2 separate regions of the Homo sapiens genome follow, and region 2 is linked to region 1. The links come from fine-mapping of genetic effects on plasma protein levels. Region 1 holds a variant in brackets. A gene starts in the other region. All regions are shown on their forward strands.

Region 1 (8,514 bases):
TGCTTATAATCCTAGCTACCCGGGAGGCTGAAGCAGGAGAATTGCTTGGACCCAGGAGGCGGAGGCTGCAATCAGCTGAGATCACGCCACTACACTCCAGCCTGAGCAGCAAGAGTGAAACTCTGGTCTCAAAAAAAAAAAAAAAAAAAAAAAAAAAAAAAAAAAAATTAGCCTGAGGTGGGAAGATGGCTTGAGGCCGGGAGGCAGAGAATGCAGTGAACTAAGATGGCAGCACCACTGCACTCCAGCCTGGGCCATAGAGCCAGACCTTGTCTCAAAACAAGTAAGTGTAAAAATAAAGAGAAAATAATTCAAAATGGAAAGCTGAAGGACAAAAGGGCAAGGGCATTGCCTCATGAATAGGAGGAAGTGATACGTGTGAAACTTGGTGAGATTATTGACAATCTCACATTTGAACACGGGAGTCATCAGAAGGACTTTGCCTTGCTCTTCCTTGCCATACTTCACCCTTGCCTTGGTGTTTTCTGGAGGGTCCTGATGTTTCTTCCTCTGCCCAATACAAAGGGGAGTCTAGTGATTCAAGAACTTAAGAGCACAGAGAGGTGAACAGTAACTCGTAGCAGAGGCACTCAGGAATCCTGTGCACACACAGATGAACATCATGGGTTACAAATGAAGTCTTTTGGTCAAAATTAACTTTATTTTTCAACTTCATAGGGATGTGATAACAAAATTGGCACACACAAAAAGAATACTGATATTGGGCCTGATTTAAAAAATGCCTCTGGCCAGGTTGTAAAAAAGTGAAAGTAACAAAGATAAACATAGAAGTTGGAGTTGTAAAAAAGTGAGTTGGAATTCATGCTGCCATGATCTACTTGACCAGAGGCAGCTTTTCCTCTCTAAGCCTATTTTATATCTGTCAGTGGATTTGAGATCACTCATTTTACCATTGTAACATTCCGAGCCTTTTGTCACTGTGTGTCCCTTTGTGGCCATGTAAGAGACCACACTGCTGTAGGCTGAGAAGGCCACAGTGGTTCAGGTGCTTTGAGGACTTGGTCTTGGCTCAATAGAGCCTCACTGGTGTTTGCTCAGATTGGGCAGCCTATGCCCAAAGCTACTTGGCTAAACAGGCTGGTGACACCACACCCAAAAGGTGGCAAAGAATAGGAATAGGAAGGATCAGCACCTATTTTGGAGTGAGGAAGCCAATGGAGGTACAACTCCTCAATTCTAAGTTTTTGTTGTTTTTTTTTTTTTTGAGACAGGGTCTTGTTCTATCACCCCAGGCTGGAGTGCAGTGGTGTGATCTCAGCTCGCTGCAGGCTTGACCTCCTGGGCCCAAGTGATCCTCCTGCCTGGACCTCCCAAAAGTGTTGGGATTACAGGCATGAGCCACTGCATCCAGCTTGCTTCTAATTTTCCTACCCAGGCTGTTTTAAACCTAGTTCTCCAGCTAAGTAAAATGTGCCCAAATGGAAAACATCTAAATCTTCTGCAGCCCATTCTTCCTGTGTCTTTGTGTTGACAAACCTCTAATCTTCCATGTCTTTGTGTTGACAAACCTAACCTTCCATGTCTTTTTGTTGACAAACCTCTAACCTTCCATGTCTTTGTGTTGACAAACCTCTCCATGGGTGGTGCATCTGACCCTATCCCAACATGCCTTAGGACGCTCATCTCCTTGACTGTCTGCCATCCCCTCCCAAAACTAAGTGGAGGCTCTGTCTTTTCCTCCTAGTTTGAGGTTCTCTTCTCCCAGTGTCTAAAATGATCAATATGCCTAGAGTAGATGCTGCTGAAGAGGCAAAGTAGTAATCCTGCCACCTGGAAGCAAAGGCTGTGGGTTGGAGGGGGAAGCGGGTGTGAGGGCTGATGATAAGCCCTAGGAGGCTCCTGAGTCATATTCCTATGTTTGCTCTCTGGAGAGATGGGCTAAACTGTTTATCTTTTAAAAACCAGATGATTAAAAAGTTACATTTTAGTATTATACTGATAGGAATATAGGATAATCTCTTCTAAAGCCTATTTGGTTTCCAGAAGAGTTAGATACTTGAACAAGAGTGGACAGAGTAAGATACCTAGCTACAGCAATAGAAATCACAAACTGTTCTGTGGTTTTAATCTTCCTATTTCTGATTTAGAAGTATGAAGTGATCATATTTAATCTTTCTGCTCCTGCTCAAAAATAATTCTATAACATCATTTAGGTTATAGAAAGTTTCTACTTATAGCCCTTACATTCTTTATGACCGAAATCTGTGTCTTTCCTCATGACTGATAATTATCTCCCAATTTGGTCACTTCTGCTAATTGCTATTTTATTAAACTTGAAATTTTAGGTTGGGAAGCAAAGGGAAACCACTGGGCATCCCCTTTGTTTCTAGGGAGAAAAGACTAACTTGTCCCATCTGCTCACTTGCTTATGGAGCTAAAAGACCCCCAGTCCTAGAAGTGTTCTGTTCCTGAGGAGTGGTTAAAGAGGTGAAAAGAAGAGGTGAATTAAAAGATGAAAGAGCTTTTTAAATAGCCAGCAACTCTCTCTACCATCTGTTTTGGTAAGAGCTAGCACCTCTTGTTCTCTTTAGACCCTGGAGGGAATAAACCAAAATCAGTGGTTCCAGGATCCTTCAGAGCCAAAAGACCCCAATACCACAGTCTTGACCTTTGCCCTGCCTGCTTCTGAAACTGGAGAATGGCATCTCCCAGCAGCCTAAGGCAGACATAGGTCATACCTATCCCTGGGCAGCGAGCTGAGCTCCCACAGACTGAGTTGTGCTGGATCTCAGAATTCTAAGCATTAATGTTTCCTTGCTGTTATAATTCTTGCTCATCAGGTTCAACTGCCTTATCCCTCTGAGGTTTGCAAATGAGGATGGAGAAGCCACTGAGAAATGGACCAGTGAGCTGAGCTCACCTTTTATATGAGTGGATTTTTTTTTTTTTTTTGAAATGGAGTCTTGCTCTGTCGCCCAGGCTGGAGTACAATGGCGTGATCTCAGCTCACTGCAACCTCCACCTCCCCGGTTCAAGCGATTCTCCTGCCTCAGCCTCCTGGGTAGCTGGGATTACAGGCGCGTGCCACCACGCCCGGCATGAGTGGAATTTTAGTGTTAAATCTCTTCCTGACTCTGGGTTCAGTAGGTCCCTCCTCTTCTGTTACCCTCCTGGTTCTCTCTGTTCACCAACTACCTGCATGTGCCAAACTAGAAAAAGGAAATAATTTACACCCCTGCCCCAACAGCTCCTTCCCTCCTAGGGACTTCTGTGTCCACCCCCCACTTTGGGTCTTAGAACTGTGGCTAGAAGATAAAAGGGAGGAGTTTGAGTCAGAGGCTTTATGTCCCCAAACCCAACCCCCTCTGAGTATTAAACTATAGTGGCATTGTCCCTCAAGCTCCCCTCTGCCTTGGCTCCAGAGTCTTCCTCCTCTTCTTCCAGACTGGGCAGGGTGGCTGTTGTTATTGGTGAAGATAGGCATCTAGCCAGAGCTGCCCTGACTCCTTTAGTGAGCTGCAGGGACAAAATGGGGGCAGACAGTGAGGGAGACAAGCAGAGTTGAACCCACCGGAGATGGAGCAGTGAGGTTAAGGCCTTCTTCCATCTGGAGGTTTTCCTCCCCTCTACTTTAGAGAAAGCTAGCTTGGGCCATGGTACTGAGGGGAACCCCAATGAGGGCAAAGGCCTGACCTGGCCACAGGTCCAATAAAGAATCCTGCCTTTGCCATGGTGAACTCCATCCCACACGACTGGGAACACCTTCTGTTCACTCCCCACCCTACATGTCATCATTTCCATTGCCCTGCCCTCTTCCCTCCCTACTAGCCATCTTCCTGGTCTCAGATACTCACTGGATGATGTCGGCGAAGGCTGACAGCAGGGGCTTGGACTGGTACTCTATGCCATGCTTGGCACACAAGGACTGCACCAGGGGAGCCACTTTGTGGTAATTGTGTCGAGGCATCGTGGGAAAAAGACTTTAGGGAGAACGGGGGAGTCAGTGGTTCCTGCTTCTCTGCTCCCACCTGTACCCAACACTTACACCCTCCCCAGGACCCTGCTTCCCCAGGCTCCCTACTCACTGGTGCTCAATCTGGAAGTTGAGGTGTCCACTGAACCAGTCATTGAAGGCAGACTTGTGGACATTGCATGTGGCCTGGAGCTGGCGGAAAAGGTCAGGGGAGAGCATGTTGAATATCAGATGGAAAGGCCAGCCCAGCATTCTCCAGGTAAAGCTGGCTGAGGAAGGGACATGAGACTGTCTTGGTCACTCCCTTCACATGGTTGCAGAACAAGAGCCTCAGGCTAATGAGAAAATGCTGTTTGGGGGACTTTTTGTTTTTGCTGTTTTCACCTACGCATCCTTTTCAATAGTTGTGTTATGCTCCAGTCTTCTGAGTGACTGTCCCTTACCTGGGTGGAAACCCAGTCCATGTTCCGGTCATGATCAATGTGCATGGGAATATGGTTCATCTGTGTCACCCACACAAACCAGTTGCTTTCCAGGAACCTGTTAGATGTATTACACAGACAAAAACAGTACACACAGAGCCCAGAATTCTGATTCCCCCCTCAGATAACTGCTCCAGCCTGTCTACTTTCCCAAGCCAACTCCTGAAACACCCACTGTTACCCAAAGCCCCAGCACGGCCCCTAGACCAGACTGGTCACTCCCCAACATTTCCTTCACCAGTCCCTATCCGCCCCCACCGAATACTACCTGACTATGAAGAAAAGGCCCAGGAAGGCTTTCAGCCCCAATAGTGGCACATAAGTGAGGAAGAAGCGGACGTAGAAGGTAATCATCCAGGCCAAGTCCTATAGTGAGAAAAGCAGCGAGCATAACAGTCACGAACAACTCTTCCTCTTCCTCTCAGCAGCTCTTTGTTTGCATGGTGCAGCCATTCTCCTGGTTATCCAGACTCACTCATCTTCAGCTTCTCAGGGGTCCAATCCTGCAGTATCTAGTGCCACTGCTCCTTTCTTCCATTCCCATTGGCACCCCCCAGCCCTTCTTGCATGTCCCCTTCAAAAGTACCAAGGCCTACAAGGTCTCTTTGCCTCTAGCTCTTCCTAGCCAATCTAAATCCTTCAGCATGCCGCCAAATGAATCTGCCAGGACCATGGCTCAGTCCATGCCAGTGCCCTGATCAAATCTCTCATCACTGAACCAAGCACCATACTCTTCCCCTGACACTAGTCCTCCACAATATGTCTGGTGGTCAAACTTACCCCTCATTTCCAGCTTCTCTGCTCAGAGTTCATCCCCCCTGCTCCACCTCTGCCTGTCAGAAACCCTGCCCAGCCTCAAGGCCAGCTAGAAAAGTGACTTCACAAAGCCAGGTGCAGTCAGGCCCCTTTTGGAGTCCCCAGAACCTATTGCCTGTACCTCTTTTCTGATTAATAACCACATTCTGCTTCATCAGAAGTTTCCTTGAAAGTAGGTATTGTCTCTCATTCATCTTCCCCATTCCCAACTCAGCCCCCTGGCATTATGCCCAGTACAAGAACCTCTGGAGACACTGACCGCATGAAATTACACATTGGGAATCAGGCTGCCTGCTAAGCTCAAATCATTTCGTCCCACTTAGAGATAAGGAGGATCTGTGTCTGGTTCTATTATTTTGTTCTAAATTAGGCCTAGAGTCAGTCTCAAGTTTCCCCTGGGGAACCCCTATCCCCCACTCTGGGTGCTGGAGACAAGGATGTGGGCTTCTTGGGCCATGGATACTCACCACCCACTTCTTTCGCTGGATAACAAAATAGAAAATATACCACTGGAAGTAGAGAGGCAGCAAGGCTGGGGGCCCAACTGGGGAGGAAACCGAGACAAAGAGGAGGCATGAGCACAGGAAGGTCATGAAAGGGCCAGTTGATGTTGGGAGAGATGGCCTCTAGCAGGGGGCTGCCTCTTCCAACCATCCCTTCTGTCTCCCCTCCAGGTGCTTGAGTGCTCTGCAATCCACTGGAACCAGCAGGCACTGAAGGTGGGCATAAATCCAAGTCTGGGGAAGGCAAAAACTCCCAAGAGGATGCCAGGGAAGGTGAGGGGTGCGAGTGGCACTCTTCAGTGACAGGTGCTTGGGAACTCAGGCCCCACGCATGGGACTTGCTCTGCTCCCACACCTTTATTATTTTTCATTTTTCTTCTCTTTTCTACATACACACTCCAAGGATCCCACACTTTTAAAAGGGTGCTAATACTCTCTTACTTACCTTGGCCACAGCCCTGTCCCTACAGTCATCTGCCCTTTGTTCCTGGCAGCTCCACCATGCAGGTGAAGGGGCAGGAGCAGGAAAGTGTGTGTGTGTTGGGAGGGACCCTGTGGATCCTTCACAGGCTGTGAAGCTCACTTCCTTAAACTAGGGAGATGGGCTTGTGCCACCCCAATCTGAAGCCCTGGAGGTCAGCTGTGGGACGGAACAGAGGGGCCTCTCTTGAAAGAAAACTGGGAGTTGAAGAAGTGTTGCATTCTACATGCTTCCTCATTTCCTTTTCTGTAGCCCTTCTCTGTGGCACCTGATGCTACCCATAACTCCTAGCATGACAATGCTCACCCATGGCTCCTCCATCTTGATGTGCCATGGATTCTAAAACTATTTCTTCCAGAGGTCTCTGCTCTACCCTTCTGCCCCATCGCCTTTCTCTATTCGTGATAGTTGGTGATAGGCAGTTAGGATGAATTCCTTCAAACTAAAATAAGATCAGTGGACTCCTTCCCTTCCTTCTTTAAAAAATTTGAAAATTTAAAGGCGTTTAAAGCTCATTTTAGGCATTATGGAGCAGAGTTGTTGTTGTTTTAAGAAACAAGATCTCACTCTGTTGCCCAGGCTGGAGTGCAGTGGCACAATCGGAGCTTACTGCAGCCCCAAATTCCTGGGCTCAAAGGATGGTCCCACCTCAGTTTCCTTAGTAGCTGGGACAGACTTTTAAAGCTGGGAATATGTGGCAGTCATCAGAAAGATCTTCTTCGTTCTAACAGCTCTTCCATTCTCTCCTCAGGACCCATCCTTCCAGAACTATCTGTACCTTTGTTCCTCTGGGGGTTGGACTGGGCTCTACCAGGTTACCTTGGCCCATCTTGACAAAGTTTAAGATAAGGTTGAGGGGCCGGGCG[C/T]GGTGGCTCACGCCTGTAATCCCAGCACTTTGGGAGGCCGAGGCGGGTGGATCATGAGGTCAGGAGATCGAGACCATCCTGGCTAACAAGGTGAAACCCCGTCTCTACTAAAAATACAAAAAATTAGCCGGGCGCGGTGGCGGGTGCCTGTAATCCCAGCTACTCGGGAGGCTGAGGCAGGAGAATGGCGTGAACCCGGGAAGCGGAGAGCTTGCAGTGAGCCGAGATTGCGCCACTGCAGTCCGCAGTCCGGCCTGGGCGACAGAGCAAGACTCCGTCTCAAAAAAAAAAAAAAAAAGATAAGGTTGAGGATAAAGCAAGAGGCCCCTCTACACCCCAAACACCCAGCTTCCCAGTGGAAACTGGGGTTGGATGGGAAGAACTAGTTTGCCTTCAACCAATCATCAGCCTAACTTCACTTCGCTCAGCTGAGATGGCAAACTGCTGTCATGCAGGGAGTAACTGGGGGTGGGAGTGGGGTACTTCCTCTAGCCCCTTTCCTTAAAATACCATAATCCCTTGGACAGCCACATCCTCCTCATTCCCTCAGCATTCCCTCCTGAGGCAGCTCCCCTGTGTTGGATGGGGACACTCACTTAGGAAGAAGTATTTGTGCTGGTGGTTGTACGGCATATATTTTTTCTTCTGTTTCCCAAGCTGTGAAGAAAAGCAAACACATGAGCATTCGGAGACCAGTGATTCCTCCCTCTGTGACTTGACCTTTCCTTGCTTGGAGGTTTAGGCCTCCTCCAGGGCTGACAGCTTGTTGGTGCTATTGGAAAGCTCCAAGAGGCCCAGCCTTACCTCCAGCACATGGAACATGAAGCCCTAGACTGTAATCTGCAGAGTGTGTCACACCATGGCCTGCAGCTGGATGGCCCATGCTCACATGAGGGATGTGCACAGCACAGAGTCTACAGGACCACAGGCCCTCTTGTGTTCATTCTCTTTGTCATGAGGTTTCCAGGCCCCACTGCCCTCTCCCCTTTCTCCCATCGTACTTTTTTGTTTATTTTTTAGACGGAGTCTCGCTCTTGTTGCCCAGGCTGGAGTGCAATGGCACGATCTTGGCTTACCACAACTTCTGCCTCCCTGGGTTCAAGCGATTCTCCTGCCTCAGCCTCCCAAGTAGCTAGGATTACAGGCATGTGCCTCCACGCCCAGCTAATTTTGTATTTTTAGTAGAGATGGGGTTTCTCCATGTTGTTCAGGCTGGTCTTGAACTCCCAACCTCAGGTGATCCACCCACCTCAGCCTCCCAGAGTGCTGGGATTACAGGTGTGAGGCAGTGCGCCCGGCCGCCATCGTACTTTTTCACACCAGAATCTCCATGGACAACCATATCTGCCCCTATACAGGTTAAGTATTCCCTCTATATCCAGCCCCTAATTCTCCCCATCAAAATCTTTTGGTCTCTTGACTTAAACATGAG
Region 2 (8,000 bases), not on the chromosome of region 1:
AAATGCTGACCACATGGGCTTGTGTCGACCAGATGAGGTCCTTCAGGTAATGCAGTCATAGCAGGGCCTGGGACGCTGACCTCAGCGGTAGGGAACCCCTGGGCGATGGGTTAGGAGAAAGGAGCCCTTGAGGGAGGCCTGAGAGCAAGCCCAAGCCTCCAGCCGGGGTGAGCCTAGAGGGCTTCCTGGAGGTGGAGTCTAGCCTGGCACTCAGGGTGGGTGGAAACTGATCGTCATTTTGCCCACAGGAATCCTCGTAGCCCACTACCTCCAGAGCATCACGCCTTGCCTGGCCCTGGGTGGAGAGCTGGTCTACCACCGGCGGCCTGGAGAGGAGGGCACTGTCATGTCTCTAGCTGGGAAATACACATGTGAGCCTGGCGCCTGGGTCCGAGGGTGGAGGGGCTGGGCCCCTGGACTCCTCCTGGGTCTGAGGGAGGACGGGCTAGGGCCCTGGACACTCAGGTCTGAGGGAGGAGGCCTGGGTTCCCAGATGCCCAAATCCCCTTGGTAATGAGACCCCGCCTCCACCCCACTCTCTGACAGTGAACAACTGGTTGGCAACGGTAACGTTGGGCCAGGCGGGCATGCACGCAACATACTACCACAAAGCCAGTGACCAGGTGAGTGGGTGCAGGGACTAGCTGGTGCTGCCAGGGGCTGCTGGGCCTGGAAGTCCAGGTGGGGCCACTTGCTAATTCTCATGTGTTGCTCCGGCCCCTCCAGCTGCAGGTGGGTGTGGAGTTTGAGGCCAGCACAAGGATGCAGGACACCAGCGTCTCCTTCGGGTACCAGCTGGACCTGCCCAAGGCCAACCTCCTCTTCAAAGGTAAAGGTCTCGGTTCCCCTACGCGGGAAACAGGCAGGAGGTGACTCAACTCTGAGTGGATGTGTGGGCCACCACAGGTGCTGGAGGACAGTGTGCTGCCACCCTGTGGGCCTCCACATTACCAGGGAACACTTGTTAAAAGGTAGGTGGGGCCGGGTGCGGTGGCTCACGCCTGTAATCCCAGCACTTTGGGAGGCCAAGGCGGGCCGAGGTAAGGAGATTGAGACCATCCTGGCTAACACGGTGAAACTCCGTCTCTACTAAAAATACAAAAACAAAATTAGCCGGGTGTGGTTGCGGGTGCCTATAGTCCCAACTACTGAGGCTGAGGCGGGAAAATGGTATGAACCCAGGAGGCGGAGCTTGCGGTGAGCCGAGATCGTGCCACCGCACTCCAGCCTGGGTGACAGAGCAAGACTCCATCTCAAAAAAAAAAAAGTAGGTGGACAACCCTCTACTATGTTTTATGCTTGGAAAAAAAAAGTAGGTAGAGCAGCCAGGCGTGGTGACTCACGCCTGTAATCCCAGCATTTTGGGAGGCCAAGCCAGGTAGAATACTTGAGGCCAGGAGTTGGAGACCAGCCTGGCCAACGTGGTGAAATCCCCTCTCTACTAAAAGTACAAAAATTAGCCAGGTGTGGTAGCGTGCTGCAACTGTAGTCCCCGCTACTTAGGAGGCTGAGGCACAAGAATCACTTGAACCTGGGAGGCGGAGGTTGCAGGGAGTTGAGACTGCACCACTGCACTCCAGCCTGGGTGACAGAGTGAGACTCCATCTCCAAAAAAAATAAAATGAAATAAATAAATAAATGTTAAAAAAAATCTGGTGGAGCATCTGATGGGTGTTTGGGCCAAGCTGGAGCTTTGTCCATCCCCTCTTATTTTTCTGCACTTGACTCTCTTATTTTTCTGAGACTGGTCTCCCTCTGTCGCCCAGGCTAGAGTGCAGCAGTGCAACTGCGGCTCACTGCAGCCTCCACCTCCCGGGCTCAAGCAGCCTTCCCACCTCAGCCTCCTGAGTAGCTAGGACCACAGGTGTATGCCACCAGGCCCAGCTAATTTTTTTGATAGTTTTGGGAGACATGGGGGTTTCACCATGTTGCCCAGGCTGGTCTCGAACTCCTGGACTCAAGCCTTGGCCTCCCAAAGTGCTGGGATTATAGGTGTGAGCCACCACACCCAGCCAGGGTAGAAGGCACTTTGGAAGCCTCGAGCCTGCCCCATTCATCTTACGTTAGTGGAAACTGAGGCTTCCAGAGGTTTCAAGGTCACAACTAAATCCAGAACCTCATCTCAGGCACACTGGTCGTAGTCCCAATGTCCAGTCTTAAGTCTTCTTGGATATCTGTGGCTCACAGATTTTGGGTGTTTGAGCCTCCTGCTGAGCACTGCTGGGGCCACAGCGGTGACCAGCCCTGTCTTCACGGGACTCAGTGAGAGGAACAGATTCATCCGCAGAGTGGGCAGGACTAGGTTGGGGGAACCCAGGGGTCTAGAGGGCTTTTCAGAGGGCAGGGGTCACTGAGCGGAGAGCAGAGGAGGAGTGAGCCATTTGCTCCAGCGTGAAGTTGTTGGTGTGATGGGGTTTCAGGGTGGCAGGAGCAGTGTGGTTAAAGGTCTGGAAGCTGTCGGCATGTGGCTGGTATCCAAGGTGGCCAGGAACTCTGCATGGATATGGTGGGAAGCTGGCACGCCTCTCACCTCAGCTCTTCCCTGCAGGCTCTGTGGATAGCAACTGGATCGTGGGTGCCACGCTGGAGAAGAAGCTCCCACCCCTGCCCCTGACACTGGCCCTTGGGGCCTTCCTGAATCACCGCAAGAACAAGTTTCAGTGTGGCTTTGGCCTCACCATCGGCTGAGCCCTCCTGGCCCCCGCCTTCCACGCCCTTCCGATTCCACCTCCACCTCCACCTCCCCCTGCCACAGAGGGGAGACCTGAGCCCCCCTCCCTTCCCTCCCCCCTTGGGGGTCGGGGGGGACATTGGAAAGGAGGGACCCCGCCACCCCAGCAGCTGAGGAGGGGATTCTGGAACTGAATGGCGCTTCGGGATTCTGAGTAGCAGGGGCAGCATGCCCAGTGGGCCTGGGGTCCCGGGAGGGATTCCGGAATTGAGGGGCACGCAGGATTCTGAGCACCAGGGGCAGAGGCGGCCAGACAACCTCAGGGAGGAGTGTCCTGGCGTCCCCATCCTCCAAAGGGCCTGGGCCCGCCCCGAGGGGGCAGCGAGAGGAGCTTCCCCATCCCCGGTCAGTCCACCCTGCCCCGTCCACTTTCCCATCTCCTCGGTATAAATCATGTTTATAAGTTATGGAAGAACCGGGACATTTTACAGAAAAAAAACAAAAAACAACAAAAAATATACGTGGGAAAAAAAACGATGGGAGGCCTCCGTTTTCTCAAGTGTGTCTGGCCTGTTTTGAGCATTTCATCCGGAGTCTGGCCGCCCTGACCTTCCCCCAGCCGCCTGCAGGGGGCGCCAGAGGGCCGGAGCACGGAAAGCAGCGGATCCTTGATGCTGCCTTAAGTCCGGCTCAGAGGGGCGCAGCGTGGCCTGGGGTCGCTATCTTCCCATCCGGAACATCTGCCCTGCTGGGGGACACTACGGGCCTTCCCTTGCCTGAGGGTAGGGTCTCAAGGTCACTTGCCCCCAGCTTGACCTGGCCGGAGTGGCTATAGAGGACTTTGTCCCTGCAGACTGCAGCAGCAGAGATGACACTGTCTCTGAGTGCAGAGATGGGGGCAGGGAGCTGGGAGAGGGTTCAAGCTACTGGAACAGCTTCAGAACAACTAGGGTACTAGGAACTGCTGTGTCAGGGAGAAGGGGCTCAAGGACTCGCAGGCCTGGGAGGAGGGGCCTAGGCCAGCCATGGGAGTTGGGTCACCTGTGTCTGAGGACTTGGTGCTGTCTGGATTTTGCCAACCTAGGGCTGGGGTCAGCTGATGCCCACCACGACTCCCGAGCCTCCAGGAACTGAAACCCTGTCTGCCCCCAGGGTCTGGGGAAGGAGGCTGCTGAGTAGAACCAACCCCAGGTTACCAACCCCACCTCAGCCACCCCTTGCCAGCCAAAGCAAACAGGCCCGGCCCGGCACTGGGGGTTCCTTCTCGAACCAGGAGTTCAGCCTCCCCTGACCCGCAGAATCTTCTGATCCCACCCGCTCCAGGAGCCAGGAATGAGTCCCAGTCTCTCCCAGTTCTCACTGTGTGGTTTTGCCATTCGTCTTGCTGCTGAACCACGGGTTTCTCCTCTGAAACATCTGGGATTTATAACAGGGCTTAGGAAAGTGACAGCGTCTGAGCGTTCACTGTGGCCTGTCCATTGCTAGCCCTAACATAGGACCGCTGTGTGCCAGGGCTGTCCTCCATGCTCAATACACGTTAGCTTGTCACCAAACATACCCGTGCCGCTGCTTTCCCAGTCTGATGAGCAAAGGAACTTGATGCTCAGAGAGGACAAGTCATTTGCCCAAGGTCACACAGCTGGCAACTGGCAGAGCCAGGATTCACGCCCTGGCAATTTGACTCCAGAATCCTAACCTTAACCCAGAAGCACGGCTTCAAGCCCCTGGAAACCACAATACCTGTGGCAGCCAGGGGGAGGTGCTGGAATCTCATTTCACATGTGGGGAGGGGGCTCCCCTGTGCTCAAGGTCACAACCAAAGAGGAAGCTGTGATTAAAACCCAGGTCCCATTTGCAAAGCCTCGACTTTTAGCAGGTGCATCATACTGTTCCCACCCCTCCCATCCCACTTCTGTCCAGCCGCCTAGCCCCACTTTCTTTTTTTTCTTTTTTTGAGACAGTCTCCCTCTTGCTGAGGCTGGAGTGCAGTGGCGAGATCTCGGCTCACTGTAACCTCCGCCTCCCGGGTTCAAGCGATTCTCCTGCCTCAGCCTCCCAAGTAGCTAGGATTACAGGCGCCCGCCACCACGCCTGGCTAACTTTTGTATTTTTAGTAGAGATGGGGTTTCACCATGTTGGCCAGGCTGGTCTCAAACTCCTGACCTTAAGTGATTCGCCCACTGTGGCCTCCCAAAGTGCTGGGATTACAGGCGTGAGCTACCGCCCCCAGCCCCTCCCATCCCACTTCTGTCCAGCCCCCTAGCCCTACTTTCTTTCTGGGATCCAGGAGTCCAGATCCCCAGCCCCCTCTCCAGATTACATTCATCCAGGCACAGGAAAGGACAGGGTCAGGAAAGGAGGACTCTGGGCGGCAGCCTCCACATTCCCCTTCCACGCTTGGCCCCCAGAATGGAGGAGGGTGTCTGTATTACTGGGCGAGGTGTCCTCCCTTCCTGGGGACTGTGGGGGGTGGTCAAAAGACCTCTATGCCCCACCTCCTTCCTCCCTCTGCCCTGCTGTGCCTGGGGCAGGGGGAGAACAGCCCACCTCGTGACTGGGGGCTGGCCCAGCCCGCCCTATCCCTGGGGGAGGGGGCGGGACAGGGGGAGCCCTATAATTGGACAAGTCTGGGATCCTTGAGTCCTACTCAGCCCCAGCGGAGGTGAAGGACGTCCTTCCCCAGGAGCCGGTGAGAAGCGCAGTCGGGGGCACGGGGATGAGCTCAGGGGCCTCTAGAAAGAGCTGGGACCCTGGGAACCCCTGGCCTCCAGGTAGTCTCAGGAGAGCTACTCGGGGTCGGGCTTGGGGAGAGGAGGAGCGGGGGTGAGGCAAGCAGCAGGGGACTGGACCTGGGAAGGGCTGGGCAGCAGAGACGACCCGACCCGCTAGAAGGTGGGGTGGGGAGAGCAGCTGGACTGGGATGTAAGCCATAGCAGGACTCCACGAGTTGTCACTATCATTTATCGAGCACCTACTGGGTGTCCCCAGTGTCCTCAGATCTCCATAACTGGGGAGCCAGGGGCAGCGACACGGTAGCTAGCCGTCGATTGGAGAACTTTAAAATGAGGACTGAATTAGCTCATAAATGGAACACGGCGCTTAACTGTGAGGTTGGAGCTTAGAATGTGAAGGGAGAATGAGGAATGCGAGACTGGGACTGAGATGGAACCGGCGGTGGGGAGGGGGTGGGGGGATGGAATTTGAACCCCGGGAGAGGAAGATGGAATTTTCTATGGAGGCCGACCTGGGGATGGGGAGATAAGAGAAGACCAGGAGGGAGTTAAATAGGGAATGGGTTGGGGGCGGCTTGGTAAATGTGCTGGGATTAGGCTGTTGCAGATAATGCAACAAGGCTTGGAAGGCTAACCTGGGGTGAGGCCGGGTTGGGGCCGGGCTGGGGGTGGGAGGAGTCCTCACTGGCGGTTGATTGACAGTTTCTCCTTCCCCAGACTGGCCAATCACAGGCAGGAAGATGAAGGTTCTGTGGGCTGCGTTGCTGGTCACATTCCTGGCAGGTATGGGGGCGGGGCTTGCTCGGTTCCCCCCGCTCCTCCCCCTCTCATCCTCACCTCAACCTCCTGGCCCCATTCAGGCAGACCCTGGGCCCCCTCTTCTGAGGCTTCTGTGCTGCTTCCTGGCTCTGAACAGCGATTTGACGCTCTCTGGGCCTCGGTTTCCCCCATCCTTGAGATAGGAGTTAGAAGTTGTTTTGTTGTTGTTGTTTGTTGTTGTTGTTTTGTTTTTTTGAGATGAAGTCTCGCTCTGTCGCCCAGGCTGGAGTGCAGTGGCGGGATCTCGGCTCACTGCAAGCTCCGCCTCCCAGGTCCACGCCATTCTCCTGCCTCAGCCTCCCAAGTAGCTGGGACTACAGGCACATGCCACCACACCCGACTAACTTTTTTGTATTTTCAGTAGAGACGGGGTTTCACCATGTTGGCCAGGCTGGTCTGGAACTCCTGACCTCAGGTGATCTGCCCGTTTCGATCTCCCAAAGTGCTGGGATTACAGGCGTGAGCCACCGCACCTGGCTGGGAGTTAGAGGTTTCTAATGCATTGCAGGCAGATAGTGAATACCAGACACGGGGCAGCTGTGATCTTTATTCTCCATCACCCCCACACAGCCCTGCCTGGGGCACACAAGGACACTCAATACATGCTTTTCCGCTGGGCGCGGTGGCTCACCCCTGTAATCCCAGCACTTTGGGAGGCCAAGGTGGGAGGATCACTTGAGCCCAGGAGTTCAACACCAGCCTGGGCAACATAGTGAGACCCTGTCTCTACTAAAAATACAAAAATTAGCCAGGCATGGTGCCACACACCTGTGCTCTCAGCTACTCAGGAGGCTGAGGCAGGAGGATCGCTTGAGCCCAGAAGGTCAAGGTTGCAGTGAACCATGTTCAGGCCGCTGCACTCCAGCCTGGGTGACAGAGCAAGACCCTGTTTATAAATACATAATGCTTTCCAAGTGATTAAACCGACTCCCCCCTCACCCTGCCCACCATGGCTCCAAAGAAGCATTTGTGGAGCACCTTCTGTGTGCCCCTAGGTACTAGATGCCTGGACGGGGTCAGAAGGACCCTGACCCACCTTGAACTTGTTCCACACAGGATGCCAGGCCAAGGTGGAGCAAGCGGTGGAGACAGAGCCGGAGCCCGAGCTGCGCCAGCAGACCGAGTGGCAGAGCGGCCAGCGCTGGGAACTGGCACTGGGTCGCTTTTGGGATTACCTGCGCTGGGTGCAGACACTGTCTGAGCAGGTGCAGGAGGAGCTGCTCAGCTCCCAGGTCACCCAGGAACTGAGGTGAGTGTCCCCATCCTGGCCCTTGACCCTCCTGGTGGGCGGCTATACCTCCCCAGGTCCAGGTTTCATTCTGCCCCTGTCGCTAAGTCTTGGGGGGCCTGGGTCTCTGCTGGTTCTAGCTTCCTCTTCCCATTTCTGACTCCTGGCTTTAGCTCTCTGGAATTCTCTCTCTCAGCTTTGTCTCTCTCTCTTCCCTTCTGACTCAGTCTCTCACACTCGTCCTGGCTCTGTCTCTGTCCTTCCCTAGCTCTTTTATATAGAGACAGAGAGATGGGGTCTCACTGTGTTGCCCAGGCTGGTCTTGAACTTCTGGGCTCAAGCGATCCTCCCGCCTCGGCCTCCCAAAGTGCTGGGATTAGAGGCATGAGCCACCTTGCCCGGCCTCCTAGCTCCTTCTTCGTCTCTGCCTCTGCCCTCTGCATCTGCTCTCTGCATCTGTCTCTGTCTCCTTCTCTCGGCCTCTGCCCCGTTCCTTCTCTCCCTCTTGGGTCTCTCTGGCTCATCCCCATCTCGCCCGCCCCATCCCAGC

Direction of the effects. Positions count from the first base shown, and alleles are read on the strand shown. Strength reflects both the effect of a copy and how common the allele is.
For the plasma level of the protein whose gene starts at base 5,315 in region 2, T is the low allele of the variant in region 1 and C is the other (weak association).

The links. A credible set is the group of variants that fine-mapping cannot tell apart. PIP is the posterior inclusion probability: the model's chance that the variant is causal. Protein levels are from antibody-based Olink assays in UK Biobank. Linkage for the fine-mapping came from a reference panel and not from the study's own genotypes, which makes the PIPs less certain.
Region 2: APOE starts here. The variant in region 1 is the best candidate, but not a certain one, in a credible set for the plasma level of the APOE protein (UK Biobank, PIP 0.56).

Annotation. Positions count from the first base shown.
Region 1 is chr11:61,798,986-61,807,499 of GRCh38, forward strand. FADS1 (fatty acid desaturase 1) reads right to left here. Exons shown (of 12, transcript NM_013402.7): 6 at 7,679-7,739; 7 at 5,700-5,776; 8 at 4,685-4,782; 9 at 4,378-4,474; 10 at 4,047-4,126; 11 at 3,816-3,941; 12 at 642-3,477. The coding sequence ends at 3,426. Among named protein-coding and RNA genes, the nearest start is that of FEN1, 10 kb to the left of the region's middle. The variant C/T (reference allele first, on the strand shown) is at 7,083.
Region 2 is chr19:44,900,482-44,908,481 of GRCh38, forward strand. APOE (apolipoprotein E) reads left to right here and starts at 5,315. Exons shown (of 4, transcript NM_000041.4): 1 at 5,315-5,360; 2 at 6,121-6,186; 3 at 7,279-7,471. The coding sequence starts at 6,144. It overlaps TOMM40 (translocase of outer mitochondrial membrane 40), which reads left to right. Exons shown (of 9, transcript NM_001128917.2): 6 at 249-371; 7 at 547-623; 8 at 727-829; 9 at 2,549-3,208. The coding sequence ends at 2,688. RefSeq lists enhancers at 4,632-5,434, 6,237-7,039.